2 separate regions of the Homo sapiens genome follow, and region 2 is linked to region 1. A link means that fine-mapping ties the variant in region 1 to the expression of a gene that starts in the linked region. Tissue or cell type: whole blood. Region 1 holds a variant in brackets; the other region holds the start of a gene. All regions are shown on one strand. Distances are between the middles of the regions.

The links. PIP is the estimated chance that this variant, and not a neighbour inherited with it, causes the effect.
Region 2: DYNC1H1 starts here. The variant in region 1 is fine-mapped to the expression of DYNC1H1 in whole blood (TOPMed, PIP 0.98).

Annotation. Positions count from the first base shown.
Region 1 is chr14:101,892,303-101,903,261 of GRCh38, forward strand. It overlaps PPP2R5C (protein phosphatase 2 regulatory subunit B'gamma), which reads left to right. Exons shown (of 16, transcript NM_001352913.2): 9 at 698-806; 10 at 2,205-2,258; 11 at 9,417-9,587. Among named protein-coding and RNA genes, the nearest start is that of DYNC1H1, 67 kb to the right of the region's middle. The variant G/A (reference allele first, on the strand shown) is at 5,924.
Region 2 is chr14:101,959,421-101,968,899 of GRCh38, forward strand. DYNC1H1 (dynein cytoplasmic 1 heavy chain 1) reads left to right here and starts at 5,153. Exons shown (of 78, transcript NM_001376.5): 1 at 5,153-5,527. The coding sequence starts at 5,272. RefSeq lists silencers at 1,865-2,041, 4,986-5,145, 5,636-5,845 and enhancers at 1,964-2,023, 4,706-4,845, 4,890-5,500, 5,501-6,110.

The DNA.
Region 1 (10,959 bases):
TACCAACATTAGAATAACATACCTGAATTACTCCAGGCAGCAAGAATGCCTACCAGATGGATAAGGCTGAGGGAAGGTGTTGGGTGGGGGGTGGGGGGGGTCCCACGTGAACTGTCCCGTCTTCCTGGCCTGTTTAGGGAGGAAGATTTTGCCACCAGGAGCTCCTGCTGTTGAGCCAGCTCCCTGCTGTTCTGGGTAACACCTGTAAACCCAGAATTTTTAAATTATGTAGTTACAAAGATAAAAATAACTATACTTCCTGGTAGGCATTTAGCATTTTTAAACTTTTTGCTGGTATCCTCTTTTTTCTGATACACACACACATACACACACACATATGTATATATATAGGAAGAATCCTCGGATTTCCCTCTTAGGCTGTTGCAGGGACCGGAGCACTATATGAAGTGTTCCACAGACCCCTATATAGGATCTCGCTATACTACCCAGGCTAGAGAACAGTGGCTCTTCACAGGTGTGATTATAGCGCACTACAGCCTCGAACTCCGGGTTCAGATGATCCTGCCGCCTCAGCCTCCCAAGTTAGCTGGGGCACAGGTGCATGGCAACATGCTTGGCTACGTATATTTTGCCTGCTGGGTTTTGATGGTGAAAACAAAAATTGAAAGACGGCAAGATATTTGTTTAAAACCTGGAATTCGTAAATGTTCAAACCTAATAAATGTTCTTTTTACAGTATAATTAATGGATTTGCCTTACCACTAAAAGAAGAGCACAAGATTTTCTTATTGAAGGTGTTACTACCTTTGCACAAAGTGAAATCTCTGAGTGTCTACCATCCCCAGGTAAGGGGCAGCAGGACTCTAGGAACACAGCTGTTGGCATTTGATCAGGATTGAACACGAGATAGTGAATCCGGCCTTGACTGAGAGTGCTTTCTTCTTTATAGGCCTGTACTAACTTTGGTAACAAACTTCTGGTGATAATCGAAAGAATAAGGGGGTAAAGAGAGATTCCTTTTAAGAAATTCAGAAAAATCTCTGTAATACAGAATTTTTCAGTTTTAAGCATTGAGAAAGGAGTAACTCTCTGAAAGGAGTCTAGGAAGACTTCTGAGAGGAGTTTTCTGTAGTGTAATCTAAAATTCAGTACCTTAAAGAGAAAAGCCTATATAGGTCCATGGCCAATGAATGGCCTATGAAAACGTTTTTTAAAAAAATAAAGCTGCCTATAATCCCAGCACTTTGGGAGGCTGAGGCGGACAGATCACCTGAGGTTGGGAGTTCAAGACCAGCCTGACCAACATGGAGAAAACCGTCTCTACTTAAAATACAAAACTAGCCGGGCATGGTGGCACATGCCTGTAATCCCAGCTCCTCAGGAGGCTGAGGCAGGAGAATCGCTTGAACCCGGGAGGCGGAGGTTGCAGTGAGCCGAGATCGCGCCATTGCACTCCAGCCTGGGCAACAAGAGTGAAACTCCATCTCAAAAATAAATAAATAAATGAATGAATAAAGCTGTGAATTTTTTAAACTGTAGTAATCTAAGTACAGCTGTACTGAAAAATTGGTCAATAAGTGGTTAATGGACTGCATTTACCTGGATTTGGTTTTCTCTCACTCTTTGGCTGCAGTGGGCGTCTTTGTTCACTTCCGGCTGTCACAGGGCCAGGCACTGAGCAGTCACGCCCCAGCACAGGCACAGGGGTGCACAAGGCTCCTCTCTGCCAGGCCCCACTTTCAGAGCTTATGGTAGGGGCTAAATGACAAAAAGTATATTCTTTAATTGATTCTTCCTAGAACATATTTATTTTCTCTGACTGCTCTTAACTGGTAATATCTTTGCATCCAGCCAGATTATCATATTGTTGTACAAAAGAAATTAATAGTTCAGAGATTTAAGATGGAACCAGATTTTAATTTGTTGTTCCCCACTGTTAGATGACTCGTTGATTGTAGTCTGCACAAGGACCCCAAGAAAATCCCATCATACTGGATTGACTTAGCGGTGGTTAGACTAAAAAGACTGTTTCCTGATTTATTTTTCTTATTTTTATTTTTCAGCTTTCTGATCTATCACCAATTAATGGGCATAAATGTTAATGCCCGTTAATCACACAAGGGCTTTGTCTGTACCGTGGGTCCTTGTCTTGCTGTGGGAAGGTGTTTAACGATGATTCTAGAAGAAGCACAGCAGCATTTTTATGTTGAAATGTTAATGCTCTTTCTCCTTTTACTTTTTAGCTGGCATACTGTGTAGTGCAGTTTTTAGAAAAGGACAGCACCCTCACGGAACCAGTAAGTACTGATGCTAGCGCGTCTTGTAAGATGTGTGCATTTCACTAAATGTAAATATTACAACATCTGCTTCACCAAATTGCCATTCATTCAGACTTTTTCATCTTAAATTGCAATACTAATAAACAGGCTCATTTCATTCATGGGTTATAGGTTTTCAAAGTATAGTCATTTTAATTGCAGATTCCTTTATTATAGTGATTATTTTATGTAATGAGATTGCCACCTTGTCCCTCGTTGCACTTTACTGTTTGAACGTAAAGCACTTGAGCGGTTATTGTAGCCACTAAATTTTAGTGTGCAATTCAGTAGTTTCACATCTGCTTGGTTTGACAACATATTGAACTGATTATGATCAGAGGAATTATAGTTAGGGTTTGAAATTATTGTTGTACTAAAGAGGCTTTACCGCCTTGAAAATACTTCCCAAGTTACACTGTAACTATTTTATGATCATTGAATCACAAGTGAACGTTAGATTACTGCTGTTCTGTGCGTGGATCTGTAATTTTTTTTCAGCCTCCATAATTATGTCAGAGGATTTATAATTTTCTTAACATTTTATGTTTATTAAAATAGGCTATCATAGCCAGGGTTAACAAAGCCAGACATGTCAGGTGCCAGTTTAAGCATTTAAATACATTTTTTGAAACAACTTTATTGAGATATAATTCACATACCACACAATTCACCCATTTAAAGAGTACAATTCAAAAATTTTTGATACGTTACATTTTGAATTTTTTTAAATTGTGGTAAAATACATATAACATAAAATTTGTCATTTTAACCGCGTTAAATGTACAGTTCACCAGCGTTAATGACATTCATAGTGTTGCGCAACCATCACCACTATTTCCAAAGCTTTGTCATCATCCCAAACAGAAATTCTACCCATTAAACAATAACTCTCCGTTCTCCCTCCCTCTGGCCCCTGCTGACCTGTAATCTACTTTATCTCTGAATTTGACTATTCTAGGTACCTTATATAAGGAGAATCATAAAACGCTTGTCCTTTCACACCTGGCTTATTTCACTCAGCGTAATGTCTTCCAGGGCTCATTCTTGGGTTGCGTATCAGAACTTCATTCCTCATCATGGTTGAATGCTGTTCTATCATATGGATAGAACACATTGGGTTTATTCATTGTTTTTTCAGTGTACACCTGGGTTGTTCCCACCTTTTAGCTATTGTGAATAATGCTGCTATTTGGATACTGGTGTACAAATATTTGCTATAATCCCCATTTTCAGTTCCTTTGGATATATATCCAGGAGTGGAATTGCTGAATCATATGGTAATTGTATGTTTAGCTGCGGGACAGACCCCCATACTGTTTTCCACAGTGACTGTCCCGTTTTACATTCCCTGCAGCAATGCACAAAGGCTCCCATCTCCCCACATTCTCACCAGTGCTGATGCTGCTGCTGCTGCTGTTGCTTTCTTTTTATTTATTTTATTTTATCTTATTTTTTTGAGAGAAAGTCTCACTCTGTCACCCAGGCTGGAGTGCAATGGTGCAATCTTGGCTCACCACAACCTCTGCCTCCTGGGTTCAAGCGATTCTCCTATCTCAGCCTCCCAAGTAGCTGGGATTACAGGTGCCTGCCACCATGCCCGGCTAATTTTTGCATTTTTATTAGAGACAGAGTTTCACCATGTTGGCCAGGCTGGTCTCAAACTCCTGACCTCAAGTGATCCACCCGCCTCAGCCTCCCAAAGTGCTAGGATAACAGGCGTAAGCCACCACACCCGACCTGTTGTTTTAATTATAGCCATCCTAGTGGTGTGAAAGAGTATCTTGTTGTGGTTTTGATTTGCAGTTCCCTAATGACTGATGATGTTGAGCATCTTTTCAGCGCTTGTTGACCAAAATCTGTATATCTTCTTGGCCGGGCGCGGTGGCTCACGCCTGTAGTCCCAACACTTTGGGAGGCTGAGGCGGGTGAATCACTTGAGCCCAAGAGTTGGAGACCAGCCTGGGCAATATGGCAAAATCCCATCTCTACAAAAAATACAAAAATTAGCCAGGCATGATGGCGTGTGCCTGGGCAACACAGTGAAACCCTGTCTCCAAAAAAAAAAAAAAAAAAAGTGTATATCTTCTTTGCAGAAATGTCCATTTAAATCCATTGCCCATTTTTTACATTGGAGTTTTTTTTTAATTATTTGAGTATCAAAGTAAGGAATGTTAGGAACCAATTCAAATGTTTGAATGCTCTTTTAAAAGTCACTGTTAGACTAGAAAAAGTAGATCTTGTCACTCCTGGGCCCTTTCTCTCTTTCACAGTTCTTTTGTGAAGTTGTAATTTTTATAGTGAAATTGCATGAGAAATTCTTAACATTGAATTTCTGAGTTAAACTGGCTTTTGGGCTCTGCTTTCTTGTAAGTTTTTAAATTCTATGTGTAGATTCCCTCCATTTCACCCACAAAATTCAAGAAGAGCTCTTGTCCTATGACTGCAGAGGTAGCAGGTGCTACAGAGCCACGAGCTGGGCCCGCCCTGTCCTGCCGGGCCCTCGTGGAAGGACGCATCCCTGCACACTCTCCCTCCAGCCCCTAGATACCTCCGCCTGAGATTTTGGGGACCTCCCAAGGAAATGTACCAAATCTCATCACACTTCAGCATCAAGCATAGTCAAGGCTTAGGGTGAGGAGGTGTTATTTTTATCCTTCTTAACGACTGAAGACATGTTTAGGTAGGAAAAAGAAAAATGAACAGTGTTAATAAAACTCATTGGGGATTTTTTTTTTAAACTGTATTTTCTCCAGTGGTTACATGCCCTAACTCTTCTGCCTATATCTGAGGTATTCTCCAAACTGAAGGGTGAGAGGTTGTATTTTTTTTTTTTTTTGAGACAGGATCTCGCTCTGTCACCCAGGTCCCACAATAGCCCGTCTGCAAGCTGAGGAGCAGGGAAGCCAGGCCCGTTCCAAAGCTGAGGAACTTGGATTCCGATGTTCGAGGGCAGGAAGCGTCCGGCACGGGAGAAAGATGCAGGCTGGGAGGCTAGGCCAGTCTAGTCTTTTCACGTTCTTCTGCCTGCTTTATATTCTGGCCTCTCTGGCAGCTTAGGTGGTGCCCACCCCCATTAAGGGTGGGTCTGCCTTTCCTAGCCCACTGACTCACATGTTAATCTCCTTTTGCAACACCCTCACAGGCACACCCAGTGCATCCTTCAATCCAAACAAGTTGACACTGAGTATTAACTATCACAGAGGTTTTACTGGAGAAAGTAATATGTAAAAAAAAAAAAAAAATTTATCTCTCCCCTCCTCTCCCACCTTTTCCTATTCAAAAATAAAAGACAACTGGGCACAGTGGCTCATGCCCCTAATCCCAGCACTTTGGGAGGCCAAGGCAGGAGGAGCCCTTGAAGCCAGGAGTTTGAGACCAGCCTGGGAAACATAGTGAGACCTCCTCTCTACCAAAAAAAAAAAAATTTAATTAGCTGGGCATGGTGACATGTACCTGTGGTCCCAGCTACTCGAGAGGCCGAGGTGGAAGAGTTGTTTGAGCCCAGGGGGTCAAGGCTGCAGTGAGCTATGAACGCACCAACTTCACTCCATCCTGAGTGACAGAGTAAGACCCTGTCTCAAATAAATAAGTAAATACAAATGGAAGGGAAAAAAAGCTATGGAAGGAGAGATTTTTGAAAGTAT[G/A]TATTTTTCTTTCATGAATTTTCTTTGTGCGTATTTCTCATATCCTGTAGTGGCTGAACAATTCACCAAATGCCACATTGCGTTTACCACAGACAGAGGCTGCTCCCACCTAAGCCACTGTCCCAGCATCTCTATCCCGCCATCCACTGTCTGTCAGCCTGACCCTAACCTTCTCCACCGAGGGCTCGGTGAATGAGCCTCACCCTATTCTCTCTTCCACCGAAAAGTAACACAAAAGCAGAGAATGTTTGTAAAAGTTTTTAATTCCCACTAATATAGTAAATAAAGTGAATATCACTTTGCAAGAGTGAGAGCTGTTAATTGCAGTCCTGTCTAAAAGAGGGCAAGAGACCCCGTGCCGGCTTCAGTTGGGTCCTTCCGGCGTAAATGTTACATGCAGGACTCTGACTTGGCACCAGCACAAAGGAGGTGCAAACCCCACCAACCTAGGCCCCGATGTTCCCACCCGGGGACACTTCATTGCTTAGTTTCCTGCTGCACAGATAATGTAATAGTACCGTCCTGGCTTTAGAAAGCAGATTCAATTTCCTACATGTTAAGAACATTCAGACCCTCATGTCAGTAAATTCCCTCTTTTGAAATGCCTATTTATGAAAACACAAAGGCCATTTTGTCTTATTTCAGCATTGAAAGCTTGTTAATGAGATGATCAAAGTATAGGCTTTGGTGCAGGTGTACATCTCTTGGTAGCACTAAGGACACCTGGTGTCCACGTCCATCTCCCAGGCCTGCACCAAAGGGACTCCTGAAGCCATCAAATGTCCAGGCTCAGGAATGTTTAAAGTAAGATCCACTTAGAAGACTGAGATATGAAGGACATGTGTTGCCCCATTTGTAGCCTGTAATTAGTATTTTTCATTTGCTAATTGTGTACAGTGCTCAAAAGCTTTCTGGGCACATGAAACACTTTCTCTGTTGGAAGAATAACAAAAGCTCATCAGAGATTTTACAGAAGTAAAACTGTGTTCCGTTTTCACCCACCTGCCTCTTCAGTCTCATCACATTTTACTACATGGCATAGTAGCGGCTCTCCTTTCTCCTTGGTCTACCAGGACAGGAAGGGGGCTCCCCAAGACTCAAGGCTGGGGCCACTGGCTCGCCTGCCCTCTGCAGGGAGCGGGCAGTCCTTGGGCTTCCAAAGGAAAACTCGGGGCCTTGTGCTGCACCCAGCAGCACACAGCCATTGTTGCCTCGGATTCACATTCCCTGAGTAGACACCCTCCTCCACAGAGCACGCCACACTGACGCAGCAAAATAGCTGATACCGATCACAGCTCATTCCAAACAATGTGAACAGGAAGGCCCGTGTGTGAATCCGATCCCAGAAATGATACCTTTTCCAGAGAAATGGAATAGCTAAATCGGTTGTGTTGTATAGTTCACAAATTAACATATTTCTCCTAATAAAATTCCATTTGACAAATGAAGAGAAATAGATGTAGGAAGTGATTTCCATCTGCTGTGTCCTTAATAGTGATTCCAATACACGCAAAGTGTGGTAGGAACACAATAAATACTTATTCAATAGTTTTGAGCTAGGAGAACCATTAAATGATGCATTTTTAGAAATAATTCCTTTTAAAGACACTTGTATGGTAGATTTTTATGTCAGACTTGAAAACTAGCAGCACTTCCTTTTTTATTTTTATTTGGCTCTTTTGGGGTTTTTGTTTGTTTGTTAGATTCTTGGAGTACAGTGGCGCAGTCATGGCTCACTGCAGCCTCAACCTCCTGGGCTCAAGCAATCCTCCCACCTTAGCCTCTCGAGTAGCTAGGACCACAGGTGCCCATCACCACACCAGGCTAATTTTTAAATTTTGTGTAGAGACAGGACCTCACCACGGTGCCCAGGTCGGTCTCGAACTCCTGGGCTCAAGCATTCCTCCCACCTCGACCTCCCAAAGTCCTGAGATTACATGCGTGAGCCACCACGCCCAGCCTTACTTTCCTTTGTTTCATGAATTTTGGAGTTTTATAAAGTGTAATATCATAAAAGATTACCTGGGAGCCCAAATGCCAAAGCATCAAAACAAAATTTTTCTAAATGGATGTTAAATGTCCACCTTTTTAAAAAATCACTGTAATGACTAAAAGGCTGGCCTGCTAAGCCATGAGTTGGTGCGATCTACTGAGCTGGAAATGACTAGTGAGTGAAAACGACCAGGCGGTCCCGGGGGCCAGCACTTGTGGCAATTGCACAGCACAAGAGTCGGGTAGAAGCCCCGCGGTGTTGCTGTGACGAGGCCAAAGAGCTGCTCTAACGCACCGGATTGCACTTGTACAATTCAGTGTGTAAGCACATATATGCACTTCATATGCAAATGCCTGTTTTGGATTGTTGTACTCTTTTAGAACTAAGATGGCTAAACTCTAAAAATATTATGAAATCTGCATGGATTCACATTCAGTATTTTGTACTGGTATGATTGTGGTAAGACATTTGGAAACTACAGGAACATATAAAGAAAGGTTGCCCAGTGGAAATTCTTTCTAGCTGTCTGACTTGGCCAAGGAACATAAAACATCCACTATCCACAAACTGGGAAACCACTGCAGTCCGACGGGCTGTGCCTGGCAGAGAGCTGGTGGCACAGACCCTCTGGGTGGTGACAATCCTGGCTACAGCTGCCACTGCAGCCTGCTCACCGCAGGCCCAGCACTGCTCAGGCTGTTGTATCTGACGCCCACAGGTGTGCGCACAGAGAGCACAGTACGCCCTGCCCGGGAGGTCCCATCGCAGTACCTGTGGATGTGAGTTAATAAGGTCAGCTTAATTCACATCACTCCTTTTGATATATTTTAACACAGTTGAAAACACTGTCTATGCATACAGAAGTATGTGTGTTTGTGTATAAACACATATGGATGGTTGATAAATTTGAGAAAGAAATGGGTTGTGTACACGTGGCCCACAGTTTCAGTACTGGCTGCTTCCACAACTAAAATGTACACATGAATTGATAATGCTCTGTGTTTTCTCCGTTGATCTTATTCTTTCTAAATTATTGTCCTAACTTCTTATTTTTTTTTCTTTTTTTAAAAAAAGGAATGGACTCTTACTGAAATGGTGTTTGATCAGAGAAAGTGGGTTATATAAACTAAAATTGTGTAATTTCTGAAGTGTATAAAATTAAGCCAGGCAGGTGGTACGTGCCTGTGGTCCCAGCTACTCAGAGGCTGAAAGAGGAGGATCACTTGAGCCAAGGAGTTCAAGTCCAGCCTGGACAACATAATGTGACCCATCTCTAAATAAATTGATTGATCAGATAGATAACCAGACAGACAGACCTACTTCTCAAATACAGAAAATCACATATGATGACTGAGTCACTGTTCCCTCTGTAAGGAAGATGGCACCATCTCCGTGTGTTGCCTTGCAGTGGGGCCACCGCAGTGAAAACACAGACTTCTTACCATGCAGGTGTTGGGGCCTCGTGGGCATCAGTCACTCCACGTGTCATTTCTTTTGTAGGTGGTGATGGCACTTCTCAAATACTGGCCAAAGACTCACAGTCCAAAAGAAGTAATGTTCTTAAACGAATTAGAAGAGATTTTAGATGTCATTGAACCATCAGAATTTGTGAAGATCATGGAACCCCTCTTCCGGCAGTTGGCCAAATGTGTCTCCAGCCCACACTTCCAGGTATGTGGGGCTTGGGGGACCTGATTAAATTCTTCCAGTGTTCATTTGGGAAAGGAAAAGTTCCATGCGTAGCTGGCCATGCTTTGCCTCTCATGCAATTTAAAGGTAAAATCCAAGTTTTTACTTGAATTATACTTCAAATACGATGCTGTAACTTGAATTCTATAGAATACCCTTGAGCATCTTGTCCCTTCTGCCGCGATACTTTTTCTCACTAAGAGCAGTCATCTGGCTTCTCTGTAAAGCTGTCTTTATCTTCATGTTCAGTGTGCTTCCAAGTTCATAAACACCCTCCTTTCCACACCTGAGCATCAATATTGATAGACAACGGGTGGCCAAAGCCTCGGCTCTGAGATGCTCTTGCTGCCGAGGCCCTTCGTTCCTGACACTGTGTAAATCTGTCTCCCTTTACCCTTTCAAAAAGGCTGAGAGCTCTGACTTTTGTCACTGCCAAATTCCTGTGCGAGAGGACGACCTTGGTCAGAGCTACTTTCTACTTTCTTTTCCCAATTTCCTTAACCCTTCAAGCCAGCCTCGGCTCATCACCTCTTTTGAAGGCCACCCCCACACACCTTCCCAGCCTGCCTGCCTCTGTTGGACGTGCTAGCCACCTGTCCTTTTGCATCATTGAGCGGATTTTATTGTGCACTCATCATGAACAAGGTGAAAATAGGCACAAAATAAGCAAGACCTCCCGGTGCCCAGGGAGCAGGCCACACAGTGGAAGAGAGTGACCATGTCACACCACCACCTTACAGCCAAACGTGAAGGGCCAGGTGGCGTGTGCAGCAGGCTCTCAGAAACACATGGGCAGTTACCTTAGCACAAGTCTAAGTGGTTAGAAAAAGTCCACAAGAATGAGGGGTCCTCCAAACTGAGCCTTTCAAGATGGTTTTGGAAAGAGATCATTGAAACCAACAAAACTAAGACAAGAAGGCAAGTGATAGAAGAGTAAGAAGCTCTGGAGCACGGGCAGCCATAGTAAAGTGAGGCCAGGCTGAGTCGGGTTAAAGGAAGGAACTGCTGTGGTGTAGTCTCTTCCATACAAATATTCAGGTTATTTTCATTTTATAAATTCCAATGAGTTTTCACATTAGGAACTAAGAAAGGAAAATTATGTTTTGGGTTTTTTTTTTTTTTTTTTCATCAATCCTGGCCTACAGAGAAAATAATGTTTCTCAAGGCTTTCAGTGTGAGCACTTTGCACAAAGGAGCATGGTTTCCTAGAAACTGTAGAGACCAGCGCCACGGAGCCCTGGCTGAAGTACAGGGCGTTCGTATGCCAAGGAGAGACTGGCAGTCGTGGGAAGTGTCCCAAAAACTTGAGCCCCTTCCCCAGATGCAAAATTAGCTATCGCTATGGGTAACGTTA
Region 2 (9,479 bases), 66 kb after region 1:
ACTGGAGTGCAGTGGTGCAATCATAACTCACTGCAACCTCAAACTCCTAGTCTGAAGCAATCCTCCTGCCTCAGCCTCCCAAAGTGCTGGGGCTACTGGCATGAGCCACCATGCTCAGCCAATAAAGATAAGAACACTTGAACACTGTCAACCAACATGGCCTAATTGACATTTCTTAGAACATTCCACCCAACAACAGCAGAACACCGCCTTCTAAGGTTGGGATTCAAGGCATGGCTGTATTGAAAATCCAAGGAAGGCTTGGGTGGGGATAGTGGCTCATGCCTGTAATCCCAGAACTCTGGGAGGCTGAGGCAGGAGGCTCCTTGAGCCCAGGAATTTGAGACCAGACTGAGAAACTTGGCAAAACCTCATCTCTACAAAAAATAACAAGCAAACAAAAATTACCTAGGTGTGGTGGCATGTGCCTGTAGTCCCAGCTACTCAGGAGGCTGAGGTGGGAGGATTATTTGAGGCTGGGAGGGAGGTCGAGGCTGCAGTGAGCCACGATTGTGCCACTGCACTCCAGCTAGGTTGACAGAGTGAGATCCTGTCTCAAAAAAAAAAAAAGAAAAGGGCCGGGTGCGGTGGCTCACACCTGTTATCCCAGCACTTTGGGAGACTGAGGCGGGCGGATCACCTGAGGTCGGGAGCTCGAGACCAGCCTGACCAACATGGAGAAACCCCGTTTCTACTAAAAATACAAAATTAGCCACGTGTGGTGGCACATGCCTATAATTCCAGCTACTTGGGAGGCTGAGGCAGGAGAATCGCTTGAACTCGGGAGGCAGAGGTTGCGATGAGCGGAGATCGAGCCATTGCACTCCAGCCTGGGCAACAAGAGCGAAACTCCATCTCAAAAAAAAAAAAAAGAAAGAAAAGAAAGAAAGAAAAAAGAAAATCCAAGGCTAGAGGGCGCTGGAGAGGGCGTGCTGATAGAACACAAACCAGCCTGAGGGCCAAGCCTTGGGCCCCTCCAACCTTCAGAGGTCGCGAAGAGCAGGATCCAGCAGAGGAGACTGAGAAGGAACCTTGGTGACGAGGAGGATCTGGAGAGTGCGGCCACCAAAAGCCAGGTGAAGGTGGTGTTCAGAGAAGGAGGGAGTGCCGGCTGCATCAGTGTGTCCACGGGTCAAGCAAGATGAGGACTGAGAACTAGTCACTGGATTTGGCCACGCGGAAGTCACTGGTGACCTTGCCAAGAGTGCCTGCCCATGAATGTGGGGATGGGGTGGGAAAGGCAGTGCCCACATATGCTTATTCTCAAGGAGTTTTGCTGGAAAGGGCAGCAAAGCAGTGGAGAGGTGCTGGCAGTGGGCTACGGTAGGGCTTCCTTCTTTTCCTTTAAAGAAGGGATAGAATAGCTCAGACATCGGTGGAAAAAATCTAGGAGAGAGAGAGAACATCTGGGAGCGAGGGGAGAATTTCAGAGGTGATAACCCTGAGAGGAGATGGAGGCAGCACACCCAGGGAGTAGTGGTCCTGGCTGGGGACACCGACAGCCTTTGGTAAGAGAAGGGGCCACACACTACCAGAGGGAAGGGCCAGGGCGGTGTCAGAGGTTTTGAGGGTCTGCAGGCAGCCTGGGTTAATCCAGGGGTCAGGAGAGCCAGGTGGGAATTGTCTGCCCAGGTAGAGACAAGATTCACTAACATCTTCCCCATGGGCAGTGGGGTGCATGCTGGCATTTTCATTGTCATTACTTGTTCTGTGACCCTGGACAAGCAAGCCAGGTGACCTTGGGCAGGTGAGCCTGCTGTCACCAGGATGGATGGGCAGCAGGCTGGGGAGGTGGGTCCCCTACAAGCAGAAGAAAATTCCATGCGACACATCCTTTGCTGCCACTAGACGGCGCCAAGAGACCGTTCCGTTCTCACCACGCGCTTCAAACTCCAACCTGCTGGGGTCGAAGCCTCCAGGAACCAGATCTGGTTCAAGCCTCACCCTGAGGCTCATTTGACAAGGAATCAAGACAGAAAGGGGGTGGATCCTGGAATGAGCTTCCTCAGAAAGCGTCCTGCAGCCCTGCGAACCTGTGAAGTCCCAGCCTTGCCCTCCAGCAGCACCCTGACAGCCCCAGAGATGTGGCCAGGAAGGTCTTGATCCACAGTGCACCCCGTGTCCCCACGGCCACCGCCAGCGCCCCTTCCTCGGGGTAAGGCATTAGTTTCACACCCACCAACCAAGTGCACGCTTTGGTCCAGGCCCCGCTGGTGCTGAGAATCCCGAGAAGCTTAGACCTCCCTGCTCTCACAAGTGGGGATGAATGAATGAACGAATGAGCCCAAGATGGAAATTCTTTTTCTTTAAATTTATTATTATTATTATTATTATTATTATTATTATTATTTAGAGACGGGGTCTCACTCTCTTGCACAGGCTGGAGTGCAGTAGTGAGATCACAGCTCACTGCAGCCTCGACCTCCACCTCAACCTTTTGAGTAGCTGGGAACAAGGGTGTGCACCACCACACCTGGCCAAATGTGGAATTTCCAGGGAGTGGAGGGGAGATCCTGGGCACAGAGCCTGAAAGGGCTGGGGCAGCAGGGGTTCCTCTGAGGGGGTTGGTCCTGCCCGAAGGTTGTGAGAGGGAGAGGAAGGATGGTATGAAACTGGGCACCCGACTTGAGACTTGGACTTAAGGAGACATTGTTAAGAGAAGGGTGGGAATGAATGGGATCTCATCATGGATTTCCAATAGGATACAAGCGCCCTACCAGCCACTATCATCCCACATCAACCTAGAACGAATTCTCTCTCCAGCTTGCCCTGCCCCCTGCCCTGCCCAGAGTCTGTCCAAGCAGACTCTACCACAGACAGGAGAAAGCTGAGGCAGCAGAACAAGAGACGGGAGAGGCCAGGTTTGGGTGAGGGGCCCTACCCCCACCAGGGTCAGCTTGGGGTGTGCTGGAGCCAGAGTCCTGTGCCAGGAGGCAGAAGGGGCACCTTGAAAGAAGCTCCCCACACCCTTCAACCCTGGCACAGCCCAGCCAGCCACCCAGGTAATGCACTTAAAGTGCTCAGCACCCAGTCAGCGTTGACCACTCTTCTCGTTATATATTAAATACAACAAACATCTTTCAAGAACAAAAAGCAAGCATGTTTGGTCCATTCATGAATCCTTGTACACTGATTGTTCGGGTTCTTTCAGTTCCCATCCACTTAGAAATAACAAACATGTTTCATTTTGAGCCTATCCTACAGGGCCGCAAATCCGGAGCCTGCAGTTTGTTCTCTTGGCCTGGGGCCAGGTTGCAGATGTTTGAGTCCCTTGGATCCCTGAGTGGCTGCGTCTCCCAGTCTGGTGCTGACTCATGGTGCAGCCAGCATGCAGCCTGCCCATCGGCCAGGTCCCTGCAGGTTTCTGAGTCTCAGATGGTGGATGGCCTATTCAGAGTTCACAGATCTGCACCTAATAGACTTTCCTCTTTGTCCCTCTTTCTACCCCTAAAGTACATGTGAGGGGAAACCCTCTGCATGGTGCCTAGCACGCAGTGAACACTCAGCGTTCGCTGTCAGTGGTGTGTTATTATTATTCATTACCATTAGGATCCTTGCACAAACTCATCGCAGTTGCCTATTTATTTTTTCCAGGAAGATTACTCGGAACTGCTTAGGCACATCACACCAGGGCGGACTGATGGAGAGCAGGAAGATGGGGTATTCATCTGTCCCCTCTTCCACATGCTCCTTAAAGACAAGAATCATCTGATTAGTCTCCGTGTTCCAGCAACCCCCTGGGACCCAGCAACCGGTAATTAGGCAAGGAATAAGCTTATTGTATGTTTCACAGTTTTTCAAAGATGATTTGGGAGAATCAAATCATACCATCATCATTCCACCAATCAGGACTCGGCACTCTGACAGTGCACTTTGATGTTTAAAAAAAACAAAAAAACCAAAAAAAAAAAAAACGCCATTGGCTTCCCTCTCTCCACCCAACTTAAGAAAGAAGTTATGAATGTGAACTTTCAAAGGCCAATTACTACCCCTTAGAAGAACCTACCATCTCTAAACTACAAAGATGGGCAGCCTGGATTCTATTATTTTTATTATTTTACAAAATTCTTAATTTTTAAATACACATAGATATAGGGTCTCGCTAGGTTGACCAGGCTGGTCTTGGAACTTCTGGCCTCAAGCAATCCTCCCATCTCAGCCTCTCAAAATGCTAGGATTACAGGTGTGAGCCACCGCACCCAGCTGGGCAGCCTGGATTCTGGCTCTTATGTAGTCATGGTGTAGGGGAGGAGGTCGTGGTGGGTCCGAACTAGGGGGAAACTTGGTGGGCAGGCAACCCAGCCCCTGCCTTGTACGGACCCAGATACTGAGGCCCACAGAATGACAGTGCCAGCTCTAGGGGGCTGGAGGAGAGCCATTGCTGGAGGTAGCTGTTCTCAGTAGGTCTCCCTCTTGGTCCTCACAGCGTCCTCGGGGACAATGATTTTTGTCATTAGGAACCAGATCCCATCACAGCTTGGCTTTACGTACAGTGAAGGTGTCATTCCTGGCTTAACCTTACACTGCCCCGAAGGCCCCCTCCCCAGCTGTCCGTTTCCAGCCTGGCAATGGGACTCTCTGAGCACGCCCCTCATCTCCTCCCCCTCTGAAAAGTATCCTCAATCTCCCGGTCTATATCTAATAACACATCTGTCGTGCCTATATTTTGGTACCTGATACGTAGTCATTCATTCATTCAATGAGAGAACATTTAATGAGAGGTTAAGGGGCTTAGAACAACGCCGGGCACAGGCTAAGCGCTCACTAAACGTTAGCTCTCGCCAATAACATCACTGATTCACTATAAAGTTTCTCTGGCTGTGTGCTATTCGCTGCGTCCACAGCAGTGAAGAAGACAGACGCAGCCCCTGACCAACCTCGCCAAGCCCGGGCGCCGAGCCAGGACGTTGAGCCAAGTCCCCATCTCCTAGGACTCGCAGTGCGGAGGCTGCGGGCCCCGACCAGCGCCGAGACTACAAGTCCCAGAAGGGCGCGCGGCGACATCGCCGGGCCCGCCCCCCGCGCACGCGCGGCGCCGTGACGCTAAGGCCGCGAGCGAGCGCGGGTGGCTGCGGCGGCTGCGGCCGGCGGGGCGGGGCGGGGCCACCTGGCAGTGGCTGCCTTTAGGGCGGAGCCGGCTCCCGCTCTCCTCAGTCTGCGGTGGGCTAGCGGACGGTCCGGCTTCCGGCGGCCGTTTCTGTCTCTTGCTGGCTGTCTCGCTGAGTCGCGGCCGCCTTCTCATCGCTCCTGGAAGGTCCCGAGCGCGACACCATGTCGGAGCCCGGGGGCGGCGGCGGCGAGGACGGCTCGGCCGGATTGGAAGTGTCGGCCGTGCAGAATGTGGCGGACGTGTCGGTGCTGCAGAAGCACCTGCGCAAGCTGGTGCCGCTGCTGCTGGAGGACGGCGGCGAGGCGCCGGCCGCGCTGGAGGCGGCGCTGGAGGAGAAGAGCGCCCTGGAGCAGATGCGCAAGTTCCTTTCGGACCCGCAGGTCCACACGGTGCTGGTGGAGCGCTCCACGCTCAAAGGTGCGGGGCCGCGGAGGGCAGGGTCGCCAGAGCCAGGCCTCGCGGAATGCAGGGCCTGCCAGGTCCTCCGGGGTCGCAGATGTCCCCGGGATGGGAGGAGCCCGGCAGCTGCAGATGACCCCTGGATGGGCAGAGCCCGGCGGCCGCAGACGTCCCGCCGGCCGGGTCCCCAGGGCCGCAGACGCCCCGCAGAGGCCGGCGCGGCGCCCGGGGCTCGCCCTCGCCACACCCACTGCCCGGCCCGGAGCCCCCAGGGCGCCCCGCTCCTGGTCGCGGGGAGGGGAAAGGGGTCCCCGTCTGCCGTCACCCAAAACAATGGGGTCGCTTTGTCTGCTCGGGCCTCTCAAGATGGCCGAGTTGGGTGGAGACAGCGTCTCCCTGGGCTGAGAGCGGGCGAGGCCGCATCCCTGCCTCCAGTGTCACATGAGCTTTTCGGTTTCGATTTGTGTCCAAGCCAAGTGGCCTTCGGGAGGGATGTGTCGGGGGCAGACCCGCGGAGCTGGGGGCAGCCGGGGTTCTGGTTCGGGAGGAGGTCGGGCGGGTGTCCCAGCCCTGCCTTGTGGGGACCCAGAGGCCGAGGCCCACAGAGCGACGGTGCCAGCCCCGGGCCTGCGAGCATCACTGTTGTAGGTGGATGCTCTCACAGCATCCTTGCTGAACGGGTGTATCCTGATTTTACACCTGAGGAAACTGAGGCTCAGGTTAAGTGATTTCACCCAAGGTCACCAGCTAATCTTAGTCCTGAGACTAGACTCAGTGTCTCAGCTCCCCATCCACTGCTTGTTTTCACTGATCATACCTCATATTTGTTTAATGCTTCGATGATGTTAATGATAACCCTGTAATATTTGAGTCTAATTTTACAGATTAAAAAAAAAAAAAAAGATTCAGGTTAGGCACCTAGTAGGGGGAAGAGGCTAGAGTTAGCGTGTTCCAGCTGTCTCCTCAAATAATGATCGCCCACCAGCAAGGTTACATTCATCTAAGTCTGGGGCTTGCCTGCAGGCAGGCTTTCTCATGGATTCATTACAACCACTTTGTAGCCCATTACAACCACTTTGGGTGTGGCGTGTCCATCTAAGAACCTAAGGATGATGTCCAAGGTTAGCCTCTAGGGATTGGAGATTGTCTAAAAATATTTGCCAACAAGCTTCTTAAAATTTCAAAAAACTGTATGGTTCTCTCAGTGAGAGACCCTGTACTGTCTGCCCCATCCTTAACACACACTGTGTTTCTGATGGTTTGTTTCTTTCAAAGGCTATTCTTACTCAGAAGATGCTTCCCTGTAGCCTTGGTTTCCTGCCAGAGATTAGCAGGGTGTAAAAGAATATTTTTTTCTTATATCCACGTGGAATGTTCAAGGCAAATAAACCATTTGAGCATATTTAGAGTATTAATGTTTTTGAGGGTTGTTTACTGTGATGTTTGGGATTATGTATTCCTAAGTGGAAGCCACAAAAGTTAAAAAAAAAAAATTTATCTACTCTTTTTTTTTTCCAAAAAACATATAGTCATTGTAGAAAATGTACTATACAGCTAAAGTAAAAATCACTGGGAATTGTTTGACCCAGATATAATCACTGTCAGCATTTTTGGTTTATGTCTTTGTGGTCATTTTTCAATGCATATTCGTCATTTTATTAAAATACATTTTAATCTGCATTTTTAAAGTTAATTGTATTTTGAGTAGCTTGACCATTGCTAATCCTTGATATTTTTATTGCATAGTTTATGTATTAGAATCAGTGATTTTATTTTTTTTACCTTGTGTCACTCTTTTTATGAAAAAAAATTTAAGTTTTATACTTTGCTTCTAGAGTGATCACCAGTAATTCGCTTTTTCCAGGCATCTTAAAATTGGACGTTGCTAAAATTATTGGGGTGGGGGGACTATGTTTATGTAGTACAATATCTACTACAAATTCTCTCTGTTGTCTTATGAGTACCTTTTTTTCTTTCAGCAAAACAAATATGCAGGTATCCAAATCTTGGCTCCATAATGACTTGCACTTTTGAAAGTTGACTAAGGAATGAGACTATCTAAAATTGAAATCCTACCTCATTTCTGTATTTATAACAATCCTTGAAGTATTTCTACCAATTCAACCTGTCTATAATTTATTTTTCACTTACAAAAACCTAAGGAAAGATTTTTAAATTAATCCAGTTTTATGATAGATGGTCTGTTTGTCTTATTAGCAGCCTGGCTACACTAGGACACCTTAGATATAAGTAGAGACCCAGGACTTTTGGTAGGAGGGCTTTCTTCTTGGTGGCTTTTATGAGTTAGCTTTGGCATTTGTACATTTAATCAAATATGTGCATCCAGTAGTTAATTACAGTGAAAAGATAGGCATGCATTAATGTAGACAACAGAGCTGAATTATTTAAACTGAATAAAGATCACCAACAATGAAGTCATGTAATTTAATGAACAGTAGAAATTACTTTTATTTATTTTATTCCTTCCACTTTTTTTGTGGAAGTATCCAAACACTTGTAATTGAATATAGAAACATTTTTATGTGAAACTATATATATTTTTTATTTGTTTGTTTGTTTTAGCTACCCCAGCTAGCCATAAACTTTTGTTGTTAAAGTGCAGCATTGAGCTGGGTGCGGTGGCTCACACCTGTAATCCCAGCACTTTGGGAGACCAAGGCAGGAGGATCACTTGAGGCCAGGAGTTCAAGACCAGCCTGGGCAACATAGCAAGACCCTATCTCTACAGAAAATTAAAAAATAAGCCAGGCATGGTGGTGTATGCCAGTAGTTCCAGCTACTTGAGAAAATTGCTTGAGCCCAGGAGTTTGACGCTGTGGTGAACTAGGATCACACCACTTTGCTCCAGCCTGGGTACAGAGTGAGACCCTATCTCTAAAATAAATCAAGTACAGCATTACTCAAAGTATAGAATAAATGTTGTGAATTTAACAACTCATCTTGATACTGAGGAATTGGAGAGTTTGTGGGAAAAAGGGATTAAGTTATAGCTCCTCATTTTAAAAAGAGAAACCTTTGTATAGTTCCTGGCCTGTAGGAAATTGTCTTCCTCATAGTATGCTTACAGCATGGTGACAAAATAGGTGCTCATTACTTAACTAGCCATTTTATGTTAATGACGTTTTTGTAGCATTTTTTACTTCAAGGACCATTTTTTGGTTGTGTATCTCCGTTCGGTGGGGTATGCTTCAGTTTGCAGCTGATGGAACTGACATTTCCATGACTTGTCTGCTCTGCAGCTTGTTCATGACCTGCCTGGGATTGGCTGCTAGGTTGGTTGGTCTGGATGAGAGCGTGTAGTTTGGGTTTTTTGTTTGTTTTTGGTGGGGAAAGGGTTTTGTTTTGTTTTGTTTTGTTTGAGACAGGGTCTCAACTGTGTCACCCAGGCAGGAGTGCAGTGGCCCAGTCATGGCTCATTGCCACCTCGGCCTCCTGGGCTCCCAGTTCATTTTCTCATTTTTTTAATAGAGAGGAGGTCTCACCATGTTGCCCAGGCTGGTCTGGGACTTCAGGGCTCAAGCAATACTTCCACCTCCGCCTGCCAAAGTGCTGGGATTACAGGTGTGAGCTACCACACCCCACGTGTTTGTTTGTTTAACACTCCAGTGTTTGAGACTTGGAATTTTTTTTTTGAGACAGGGTCTCACTGTTGTCCAGGTTGGAGTGCAGTGGCACAATCTCTGCTCACCGCATCCTCAACCTCCGGTCTCAAGCGATCCACCCATCTCAGCCTCCTGAGTAGCTGGGATTACAGGCACACACCACCACGCCTGGCTCATTGTTGTATTTTTTGTAGAGGCAGGGTCTCCCCATGTTGCCCAGGCTGGTCTTGAACTCTTGGACACAAGTGATCCTGCTACCTCAGCCTCCCAAAGTGCCAGGATTACAGGCGTGCGCCATGACATCCAGCCTGAGGATTTAATTCTAAAGGATGAAGAAATGTAGTTTA